Regions from separate parts of the Homo sapiens genome. Here region 2 is linked to region 1. Evidence: fine-mapped expression QTL. A gene starts in region 1. The other region holds a variant in brackets. All regions are shown on one strand. Distances are from middle to middle.

Region 1 (5,360 bases):
ATCCAGCTGCTGGTGTGATCATGGGCTTCCCTCCTCTCAGCAGGGCAGGCGCTCCTGCCCCAGAGACTGGGCAACTGGCTGTTTCTATGACGTATTTATTTTTACTTGTGTTTCATGTCACTTTTTTAAAAAAAAGCAAACAGAACAATTGTAAGTCAGTATAACTGCCTATCAGTTTTCTTTATTTCTCTTTTTGTAAAATAAAATTTAAACTCAAGAAGGCAGTGTTGTTTGATCAAGGAATTGTCTGGATAGTTGTTTGGCTGGGTGGTGGTGAAAGGAATAGATCTTAGAACATAGTGGGCTCTGGGATAGCCCTTGGGTGATGAGATAGGCAGGAACAGAAGGAAGACTGATGGCAGGCTCTTTGTTGCAGTGGGGTTCACTGGGCTTTTTCTGCTTTTGTTCACCTGAAGAAGGATGTATTACCAGGCTCCAGGGGAAACAGCAAGCTGACTTCAGAGTGGCTTGAAGCTAGCTGGTCCTCAGCCAAGGCAAGTCCTGCAGGGGCAGCCCTGACTAGACAGTGAGTGGCTGGGGATTGGGCACAATGCCTTCAGAGGGTGGGAGACAGTGTGTCTGTGAGTGGCTGGTGGCAGCGAAAACATTCTTATTGCATGTGTATTCTCTGTCATCCATGTTGGGGAATCTAGCCACTGGCCCACAGAGTTAAACAGAGCTTTGGAGTGTGAGAGGTGGGGGAAAGAAGGGACAGTCTACTCCAGCTTCCTGTTTAATTTCTTCAAGGGGAGGGGCCCTGGGGAAACAATTTTCTGGAAATTTACAAAGAAGGATAGAGAAAGAATCTCTGTAGTGATTCCTTGGACAGAGGAAGGCAAGAGGAGATGAAGGCCAAGTCTGGACTCATGATAGGGGAATCTGTGCTATTGGGAGATAAGATTGGGAGTGGAGGATGGTTGCAGCACATGGCTGGGCGAACAGGTTTCCTCAGACCTGTTACAAGGGGTTGGAATGAAGAAAGTGCCTTGTAGAGTAGGCTGCTGCCTCCTGGTGGCCAGCCGCTGCCTTGCAGGGATCCTGCCAAGGGACCTCACTTGGCACTGTTGGAAGCAGCCTGAGGTGAAGCTGGGCAGGCTGATGTCATGGCCTGCAGCCCCAGTCACCAGCGGACTCTCCTCCCACAAAAGAGGTGCTGAAGCTCCTGAGGCACATGTTGAACTCTGATGTGGGGCTCTAGAGTTCCCCAATCAGGCTAAGGGAAGTGAGCAGAGAGAACAAGATAAAGAATGGGCACTTCCTTATAATGGTTTCCTGGGAAAAGCTCACCACCTTCTGAGAAGCAGGAGAAATGACCACGCAGACCCTGCAGGCAGAGGCTGTCAGTCTCTGAGCCCGGGCCATGGCTGCTCCTTGTGTCAAAGGAAATGCTACCAAGTGTGTAGCCCGCCTGCCTGGGGCACCTAAGCTGAGGGTTTGACCATGTGCTTGATGTTCATAGGTAAAACAACTGCTGCGACCTGCACTGGCCCAGCCCGGAGTGCCTGTGAGGGGCCAGCTGCCTGTTCTGCCAGTTTGCCTAGAGGGCTGGGACAGGCTTGGCCCTGTGGATAAGGTTCAAACTCCCCTGCCTGCGGAAGGAAGAATGTGAAGCAGAGGGAAAGGAAGCTGGGATTTTGACTGTCTCTGTGTGCCCAGCCTGCTCTTTGCTGGTGCAGTAGTGGGATCCACAAGGTGAACCACCCTGTGACTGCTGACTTTTCCCACCACCACCTTCGTGGTGTTCCCATCTGCTGGATCCCCCTCCCAAACATCAGTCCTTGTCAGGATACCAAAGTAGCTCTTGGCCTCGCCGGTCTTGTAGCCAAGCTTATGAGCATAGTTGTCACCTTCCCCACCTCCCACCAAAAGTCCGGGATTTTCACGAGGGGAGCGTTTTATCTTTGGGCCCCTAGAAGAGTGCTTTGTAGTTTGTAGGTCCTCAGAAATTTGAGGTGAAGATTGAACCAATCATCAAGGAGCTTACACTTGACGTGGGAATCACGTAAGTTACCGCTAAACCACAAAGGTAGACCAGCCTCCCACAGCCACAACCTGGGCACTGAGGGAGGAGCCTGGAAGAAGGGCATTCCCATGGAACGTGAACTCCAGGAGGGCAGAACCTTGGTTTTGTTCACTCTATCCCCAGCCCCTAGAACTGTCCTGGCAAGGAGTAATAATAAGTGTTGGATGGATGAATATACTCACGGAAGTGGGAATGGGTGGGTGGAGGCAGGAAGCAGATATTTGCGCTATGCAGAAGTTGGATCCACCAGTTTCTTCCGCGAGCCCAGACTGGGCTTCAGCTTCCTCACCTATGCCTTTCTTGGTTCCCAAGTCTGTTGCGAAGCCACAGTGAGAGAAAGTGGCAGGACTAAAGGTGGTACAAATGCCAGAGGCTGATACTGCTGTGCTGCGCCTCCCTAGGCTGTACAAATTCTCCTCAGCCCCAGCTCCCTGGTCCCCAGCCTGGCCCTCTACTGCGGGCCACTGGGCTGCCTCCCGTACCCGAGCCTGGGCCAGGCTGTCACTGTGGTGCTCCTGCCAACCCAGATGCCCTGGGGTGTTGCTAAATCAACCTCAGCAACCGGATAGTTTGTTGGAGGCGGGAAGGTACGCCGTGGGTTCCGCCGCAGCCAGCGCTGGGGCTAGGCACACGCCCGTTGCCATGGAGACGGGGCGGGGCAGGCCTCCGCCCTCCGGGTCCCGCGCGCACGCGCCCACGGCCACGGCCATGTCCCGCCGCGAGAGGGGGCGGAGCGAGCGTGCGCGGCGGGCGCGCGCAGGCTCCGTAACCGAACCCTGAGCCGCCTGCGCGGATCGGCGTCCGCAGCGGGCGGCTGCTGAGGTGAGGGCCGGGCCAGAGGAGAGGCATACCCACTGGGGCGTAGGTCTGGGACTCCCCCTGTCCGCCCTGGCGCGACCTCAGGACTCTCCGTGTCCCCTCCGTGACCCCCGCGGCCCGGGCCGCTCTTTGCATCTTGTCTTGCCCACAGCTGGCCTCGGCCAGGTCCGAGGGCCTGGATGCGACCTTGGGGCAGCCCCTACTCTTCCGGGCAGCCCACTTCCGCGGCCACCGGTGCAGGGCATGCCCCGGGGCCGTGGAGGTGAGGGAAAGAGGCGCGAGTCGCGTTTTAACTCCGCCCCCGTCCCCCAAGGCCGCGCCTCGCAGCCTGGGCTGCAAACTTTAGCGTCCTTTAAGTTACAGACGTGCGTGGGGCTCCGTGAGGAGGTGGGCGAAGAGAAAGGCTCTGAGTAAATAGGCAAGGCCCGGGGTGAGCAGGGGCTGGAATCCGAAAGTGGGAGGCGGCGGCCCCCCACCCTCCATAGTCCTTCCGCCCTCTGCTAGCACCGAAGTTTAGCCCAGGACGGGGGCCGTTTAAGGGCCCGGCCCTCCGCCGCCGCGCACGTGAGCGGCACCAGGAAGCTGGCTGGGCGCAGCCTTCCCTGAGGCTCGCTGGCACCGGCCGCACGCGTCCATCCCGGGCCTCTGAGCGGAGGGGGAGCCGAGGCTAGAGGGAGGGCGCAGTCTGCCCAAGGTCAGCGGCAGCGGCAGTTTCTGGGCGCCAAGTGTGATTGGAGTACTCCAGGAAGAGGGGCGTGACCAGAGCTCTAGCGAAGAGACCTGACATTGTAAAGCTAGGTTTGGCTTCTGATTTCCACAGGGGGTTTGAGAATGGGACGAGGGTGCTTTAGAGGGACCGGTAGGCTTTCCCTGAGGACGGTAATCAGGGCATGATGGTTGGCTCAGTGGTTATTTCCTGGGCAGGGGTGACTGTTCTTTCAGCTCCCAGCACTGGAGCGCTCGGCCCCTGCCGCACTGGATGCCAGCAGTTACTAAAAGTGAGCCTGGCATTTCAGGTGAGCTCCCAGACCTTCTTCCTTTTCTCTTGAATATAGGGGAAATTCACGTTACCTCTCCACGTGCCGACCAAGGCTCTGAGACCCCCAGGTGGGTTTTCTTCCCCCCCGCCGTTTTCTGAGCAGTTTGGGAAGTGAGAGGAAGAGAAAGGTAGATACTAAGTTTCCTTGAGGAGACAGGAAGTGTTCAGCTGAGATGGCAGATCAGGGTGAGGGCTTGTCATTCCCAAGGCAAGTGGGGGCCTAGATGCTGAGAGTTTTCCAGCTTTGGGCTCAGAGATGTCCAACAAGGATTTAATGCTTCAGGCGTTTTGGAAGCCAGTCACCAGAGAGGAGAGAGAAAGTGGAAATGAGGGGCTGGAATCAGACTGTCTGGGCTTGTGTTGCCTGCATTTTGGTCCACGTGGCTCTGTTTAATACCTGTGTTACCTTGGGCAAGTCTCTTAACCTCTAACTACTTGAACCTTTAGCCTTACCTACCTCTTTGGATTGCTTTGAGGGTGAATGAAGTAGCTGTGTTTCAACATTTAGACAGTGCCTGGCGTATAGTAAGCATTCAGTGGAAGATTTCTCATCATTATCAAAGAAAATTGGAATGAAAGTTACTGGAGACAAGATGAGTAGGACAGGCAGAAAAGAGAGAGATACTGATGGGTAGAAGCACAGATGGGTGAGACTAGTGGGCAACACCTCAATTTCTTGACACCGAAAGTTTAGAAATTTACTTTGCCTCTTTGTGAGCAAATACTGTGTGCTCATTGACTCCAAAGACAATTTTTTTTTAGCGTAAAATCAACACCCAGCACCCACAGGGAAGAAATAATTCCACAGAGCTAAGTATTCCACAAAGTTGCAGCGTGGCCTTTTTAGCTTCAAAACCTTTTAAATGTTAAATATTACTTTTAAATAATTGGGGTGGGAATGTCCCCCCAGTGGGTCACATGGCTCCCTTCCTCTTTAAACAGTCTTCTCTGGGCTGTGATTTTTCCCCCCCGCCAGGCAACTCAGGTCAAGCCCTCTGTGTAAGAGGGTTAGGCCTCTGGCCCCAAGCTGCCTGGAGAACTAGGCAGCCTGCCTTGAATAGCTCACAGACTGGCCTCTGTGTTATGTTCCTGGGACTGCTCTTGAACAGCTTCTTTTCCTCTTAGGGATAATTGTTACTTCCTCCTGCTGTGCGACTCCCCTTTTAGCAGCCTTTTCCTCTTACTACTCACTGTTTCTTCTGTGGGCTGGAAAATTGGGATGAAGCTTGTTAACATTGGTGGTTCAAGTCTGGGAAGCTTAGTGTTGGACTTTGTTCTGCCTGCTCAGGCCGCTTTGCTCTGGTCTTTCCTCTGGTTCTGGATGGGTAAGCTTGCTGGATAGCAAGGTCCCTGCAGGCCAGATGTACTTAGAAAAGGAGAGTTTCTTATGAAATTCTCTTCCTGAGGCACATTTTTCCTCACAAGTTTTTGTTCCTTATGGTTTCCCTGTCGTTAGTAAGTGTTTGGACCCTAGCATTT
Region 2 (5,360 bases), 33 kb after region 1:
CTCCTGACCTCATGTGATCCACCTGCCTCAGCTTCCCAAAGTGCTGGGATTACAGGCGTGAGCCACCGTGCCTGGCCTCCAGCTGAATTCCTTTGCTTGAAGTGTATATATGTCTCCAGGGGCTGTCTTCATTTCAGCAGGCTGTCCTGGCCTGAAGGAGGCACCCCTAGGCTCCTTCCTCTGAACATTCCTAGCCTAGGAGCTGGGTGGTAGGAGGTAGCATGCTGGGAAGCAGGCACATTCCTATACCTGGGGTCCCAAGAGAGCCATTGGGTGGGTGGGCAGACAGAACATACAGTTTAATAGGGCCAGGGAGAAACTGTCTCCCTCCTTTGCTCTTTTCAGGCCTGCGGTCCCTGGGGCACTGATCATTATTTAAGGAGCAGTGAGGGCCTGGCATCCTGTCCCCTGGTCAGAAGAAACTACCCAAAACTTAAAGCTCCCCCAGCTCCCTGACCACCTCATTCACAGGCTTCTGTCCTGGGAGCCACACCTGGGGCCTCAGCAAGAGGAGGGCCCTGGGCCAGCAGCCTGGGCTTCTAGGGCTCACCTCACCTCTGCCAGTAGCGCCCAGAGGGCATATTCTGGGGGCTGAGTGGGTGGTGGGGGTAGGGAGAGACCCCAAATTCCCCCCTCTCCTAATTCTCCCACCCCCAACCTAGGCCCCATTTGAGGCTCAAGGAAAGCCCCAGGCTGAGTCCAGGCGCCAAGCAGACCCCAGCTGCACCTGGCTTGGCTCCAACACCATGGAGACAGTGGCTGGGGAAGCTGGCTAACCCCTCACCTTCTGTGATGTTTGACAGCTGACCCTCTCCCCATCATACAGGAAGGGTAGCAGATCCACTTTCTCCCAGTCTGGATTCCTGCACACAGCGAGCCTGAGCCATGTGTTCCTCCTTGCCACCCCAGCCTGCATTCAGTGCCTCTGATCCAGGGAGATGAACCCAGGGGTTGCTCCTGGACAGGGCAGATGAAGGGGCTGCTTGCTTGGAGGATGTATTGGGGGTGGAAGGAGCAGGTTAGAAGGAGTTTGGGCCATCAACCTGGCTCAGCACTGGTTTGGGGCACCCCAACCACCAGCAGAGTGCTCTCATCATCCCCTTTTGCTATCTTGTGGCTCAGGAAGCACCAGTCATTGGGGGTGGGGTGGGTAAGGGTTTCTCAGGGTCGACCCAGGCATAGGGAGAGAAAACCCTTAACATGTTTCATCCCAGCACCCTCCTCCTTGCAGCTGGTTGAGTATTTCTCAGGCCTTCTCCATCCTCCTCGTACTTCAGCTCCCTCCTCAACTGGGACTTGGTGTGTACCAGAGGCAGGGGCCTGCTGACTCCCTGGATGCTGCTCCTGGGAGCCCTGCACGGGGGAGGGCTGCAGAGGGGCCTCCTGCTGCATTCTGCAGTCCTCGTGCCCTGTGGGTGATGTTCTGTAGCTGGCCCTGGACACATCTCTTTCCAAGCTTGAAGTGGGGGTGGGGGAAGGTGGAGAGGACACTACTTGTGTCTCTTTGTTCTACCTCAGCTCCTCACCTCAGGGCTGAGTGGCCCTTAATAAATGTGGGGGGAGGGCAGCAGGCTTTGTGGAAGTGCAGGGAGCTGAGGCTAATTTAGAGTGGGGAGAAGAGTGCACAGCTGCCTCCTCCCACCCTCTCTCCCTCCCTCCCTCCTTCCCTCCCTCCCTTCCTCCCAGCTCTTTCCCTCTGCCCTGTCTGTGCAGCCCCAGTCAGGGTAGAGGGCAGAGGGCAGCTGGAGCAAGCCCCCTGAGCCCGGGAGGCTGCATTATTCATGAGTGCACTGCGTGCTGAGTTGCCTCTCCCTGGAGGAGGGGGTGGGGTGGTCCTAGCTAACCTGTGCTCCCTTTTCCTGGTCATAGGAGCTGACACAATGAGTGACACGAGTTCTGTAAGCTTGGAAGTGAGCCCTGGCAGCCGGGAGACTTCAGCTGCCACACTGTCACCTGGGGCGAGCAGCCGTGGCTGGGATGACGGTGACACCCGCAGCGAGCACAGCTACAGCGAGTCAGGTGCCAGCGGCTCCTCTTTTGAGGAGCTGGACTTGGAGGGCGAGGGGCCCTTAGGGGAGTCACGGCTGGACCCTGGGACTGAGCCCCTGGGGACTACCAAGTGGCTCTGGGAGCCCACTGCCCCTGAGAAGGGCAAGGAGTAACCCATGGCCTGCACCCTCCTGCAGTGCAGTTGCTGAGGAACTGAGCAGACTCTCCAGCAGACTCTCCAGCCCTCTTCCTCCTTCCTCTGGGGGAGGAGGGGTTCCTGAGGGACCTGACTTCCCCTGCTCCAGGCCTCTTGCTAAGCCTTCTCCTCACTGCCCTTTAGGCTCCCAGGGCCAGAGGAGCCAGGGACTATTTTCTGCACCAGCCCCCAGGGCTGCC[A/G]CCCCTGTTGTGTCTTTTTTTCAGACTCACAGTGGAGCTTCCAGGACCCAGAATAAAGCCAATGATTTACTTGTTTCACCTGGATTTGGGTTGTGTATTTGTTTGTTCTGCCTTGGTTGGGGGCGGTGGGGGGATGGCTGTACAGATAGGCTGGGAGTGGGAAGGAGCCTCCCCTCCCCAGGACAAAGAATGGAAGGAACATGGCAGGTACCCTGGGGTTGGGGGAGGAGGGGAGTTAGAGATCCTCCACGTCCTGCTCTGTGACCCCAGTGGCCAGCTGCCCCTCCATTGCAGCTGCCAGAGAGCAAGCAGAGCCTGGCTTGGGTGAGAGCTGAGTATGGGGTGCCCTTCAGGGCTCAGGAATGGGGAGCTCACAGCCTGTCTTCATCTGCCTCCAAGGGATGCCTTTGTGTCTGTGACTAGTGTGCCTGCACGCTGGTACTTCCCCAGTAGGCGAGGCTCCCCCACTGTGCCTGCCAGTGGCTGTGTACCTGTGTGTGTGCATGTGCACCCACGCTCATGCATTTGGCTCTGTGTAACCACGGATGGATGGGGCTGCTTGGGTAAAGCTGTGCCCAGGTGAGCATCAGGGTATGATTGTACCTGAGCATGGCTGAGTCTGTGTGGATGGCTGTGTGCCTGTGTGAGTGTGTGTGTGTGTGTGTGTGTGTGTGTGTATTGCTGTGCTTTGTGTCTGTGTATGGTTGTATTATAGGAGCATGTGAGGCTGGCTAACAGCATCTCTATGGGGGCTTTGTTCATGTACAACTGTGTGTGGCTGTGTCTGTACAACTGTGTGTATGGTGATGTTCATGACGTTCATGTATAAAGCTATGTGTTTTGCTATGTGTCCACATATAAAAACACACATTTGCTATGTGTCCTGCAGCCGTATATCCATAATTATGGCCATGTATGTGTGGACATGTCTTGGTGGACAGCTATTTGTGGCATGTCCTTGTGTGAGCAGCTGTATATATGTGGCTGTGTCCACATGTGCAGCCGTGTGTAGACATGGTCACATGTTCTTAGGGGCAGGGGTGTGCCCATGTGTATTATGGCTGTCTACAAGTATAGCTGTGTGTGGTTGCATGTTTATGTGTACTATGCATGTGGCCATGTCCACATTTACAACTGTGTAAGGCTAAGTGTATGTCCTCATCCGTGTGCACACAGCTGGGAGTGGTGGCTGCCTAGCTGTGTGTAACTGTGTGTCCATGTGCTGCGACTGTGCAGCTTGTTTGCTGCAGGCCACATCATGGGCTTTTCTGGCTGATGCTGTACACAGCCATATCTGTGTTTACAGCCCTGTGCCTTTTGTGAGGCTGACTTGTTGAGCAGGTTGGGAGTGTGGCTAGAAGGAGTGTGTGACTCCTCACCTCAGCACCCTCCTGCTGTCAACCCCTCTGCTCCAGAGGCCTGGCCCATTGCTCACCTACCCCAGGGAGCTGTTGCTCTGAGGCAGCCAGAGAGGGTGAGAGCAGCCGGTGGCAGAGTTGGAGGTGGAAGACAGCATGTCTGTCTCCCACTGCCACCTTGTCTCCTGTTAGTGATGGGGCTTGTGTTTGTTTGGGTTTTATGTGTCTGTTTCGTTTCAAAGCTGTATTCTTTCCACAGCAGCAGGACATCAGGTTTCTGTGTCCAGGGAAAAAGCTCGTCCTTGGTGATCACCCCCGCACCCCTACGGACTGCCACACGCACATGTGGGTGTGTGTGCCTGAGGGGTCTGGGCTTGGCATGTTCATTAGCATGTATCTGAGCTGGCCTTGCTTCCACTGACACCTGTGGAAGAAAGGGCAGTGTCGGGAATGTGTGTAGGGATGCCATGCCCCTTGGCACTTGTTAGTGTGTGCACATGTTAGGGGCAGATAGCACAGGCTCTCTAATCCCCATTCCTTCAGCACAGTCTGGCACTACAGCTTATCCACTACCCTCTACCCAGGGGCGTCCTTCCCCATCCTGCTGTGGGAGGGAAGAGTCAAGAGAATCTTCTCAGAGCTGTCCTCCCTCTGCTTGGGCTCCAGCTCTCACTCCCTCCTACGCAGCAGCCAGTTCCAGAAGCCTTTCCCTAGGCCCCTCCCCTCCCAGATGCCCCTGCCATCCCTAACACTCCCTCAGGGTTGACCCTAGTACTTGGTTCTGCAGCCCTTCCTGCAGGTTGCTCTCTCCTTGCTTAAATACCCTTTTTACATGGGAGTGGGTGGCAGGTTTAAAGGGCATCTGCAGGAAGGAAGGGGAGGCCCCATTCTCCTCTGACCTCTCCCTTCCCCCAATCTTTTCCTCATAGTGACTCTGGCTCCAGGTCTCAAAAGTGGCAGAGGACACATGCCTCCAACTCAGGCCTGGGATGTGGACCCAGCTGAAATCGCTGAGTGGGGAGAATAGACTCCACCCGTCTCCCACGCGCCCCTTTACCTATCCCCCAGAGGCACCCCTTGCACTAAGGCCAGCTCCTCCACTCTGCAGTAGCACTATGGGCACCTGTCGGGGCGCAGTGACCTTCCCCACCCCGTGCCCCGTGGCATCCCCCCGCCCCCCACCTATGCTCTCTAGGTGGTAGTCTGACTATGGGGCGGAGTGGGCCACGAAGCACCCGCTCCAGCGCAGAGCGAGAGCGCTCGGGGATTCAGCACCACGAGGCGGACAGCTCCAGGCCCTGAGGTCCCCAGAAAAGCTGGAGCGCGGAGTGTCCAGAGGAGGCGGAGGCTGGGTTGGGAGCAGGAGACCTGGCGTCTGGAGGAACGGAGGAGGGGCTGGGGGCGGGCCGGGGCCGGGGGCGGGGCGGGGCGGGCCGCGATTGAAAGCGGCGGGGCGAGCGGGCGGGCGGAGAGCGCAGAGCCAGCGAGCCAGCGAGCGAGCGAGCGGGAGCCGGAGCCTCGCGCCCCCCGCTCCACTCCGATTCTCTCCGCGCCAGAGCCAGCGCGCCAGGTAGGGTGAGCCGGTGGTGGTGGTGCCGCTGCCGCTGCCGACCTTTT

The links.
Region 2: its variant is fine-mapped to the expression of TEX264 in whole blood (TOPMed, PIP 0.99).

What each region holds. Positions count from the first base shown.
Region 1 is chr3:51,668,444-51,673,803 of GRCh38, forward strand. TEX264 (testis expressed 264, ER-phagy receptor) reads left to right here and starts at 2,809. Exons shown (of 5, transcript NM_015926.6): 1 at 2,809-2,845. It overlaps RAD54L2 (RAD54 like 2), which reads left to right. Exons shown (of 23, transcript NM_015106.4): 23 at 1-217. It overlaps LOC124906237 (a long non-coding RNA gene), which reads right to left and starts at 2,662. Exons shown (of 2, transcript XR_007095907.1): 1 at 2,206-2,662; 2 at 174-1,213. RefSeq lists a silencer at 2,545-2,974.
Region 2 is chr3:51,701,855-51,707,214 of GRCh38, forward strand. It overlaps TEX264 (testis expressed 264, ER-phagy receptor), which reads left to right. Exons shown (of 5, transcript NM_015926.6): 5 at 1,870-2,469. The coding sequence ends at 2,162. GRM2 (glutamate metabotropic receptor 2) reads left to right here and starts at 5,214. Exons shown (of 6, transcript NM_000839.5): 1 at 5,214-5,313. RefSeq lists an enhancer at 2,086-2,954. The variant A/G (reference allele first, on the strand shown) is at 2,386.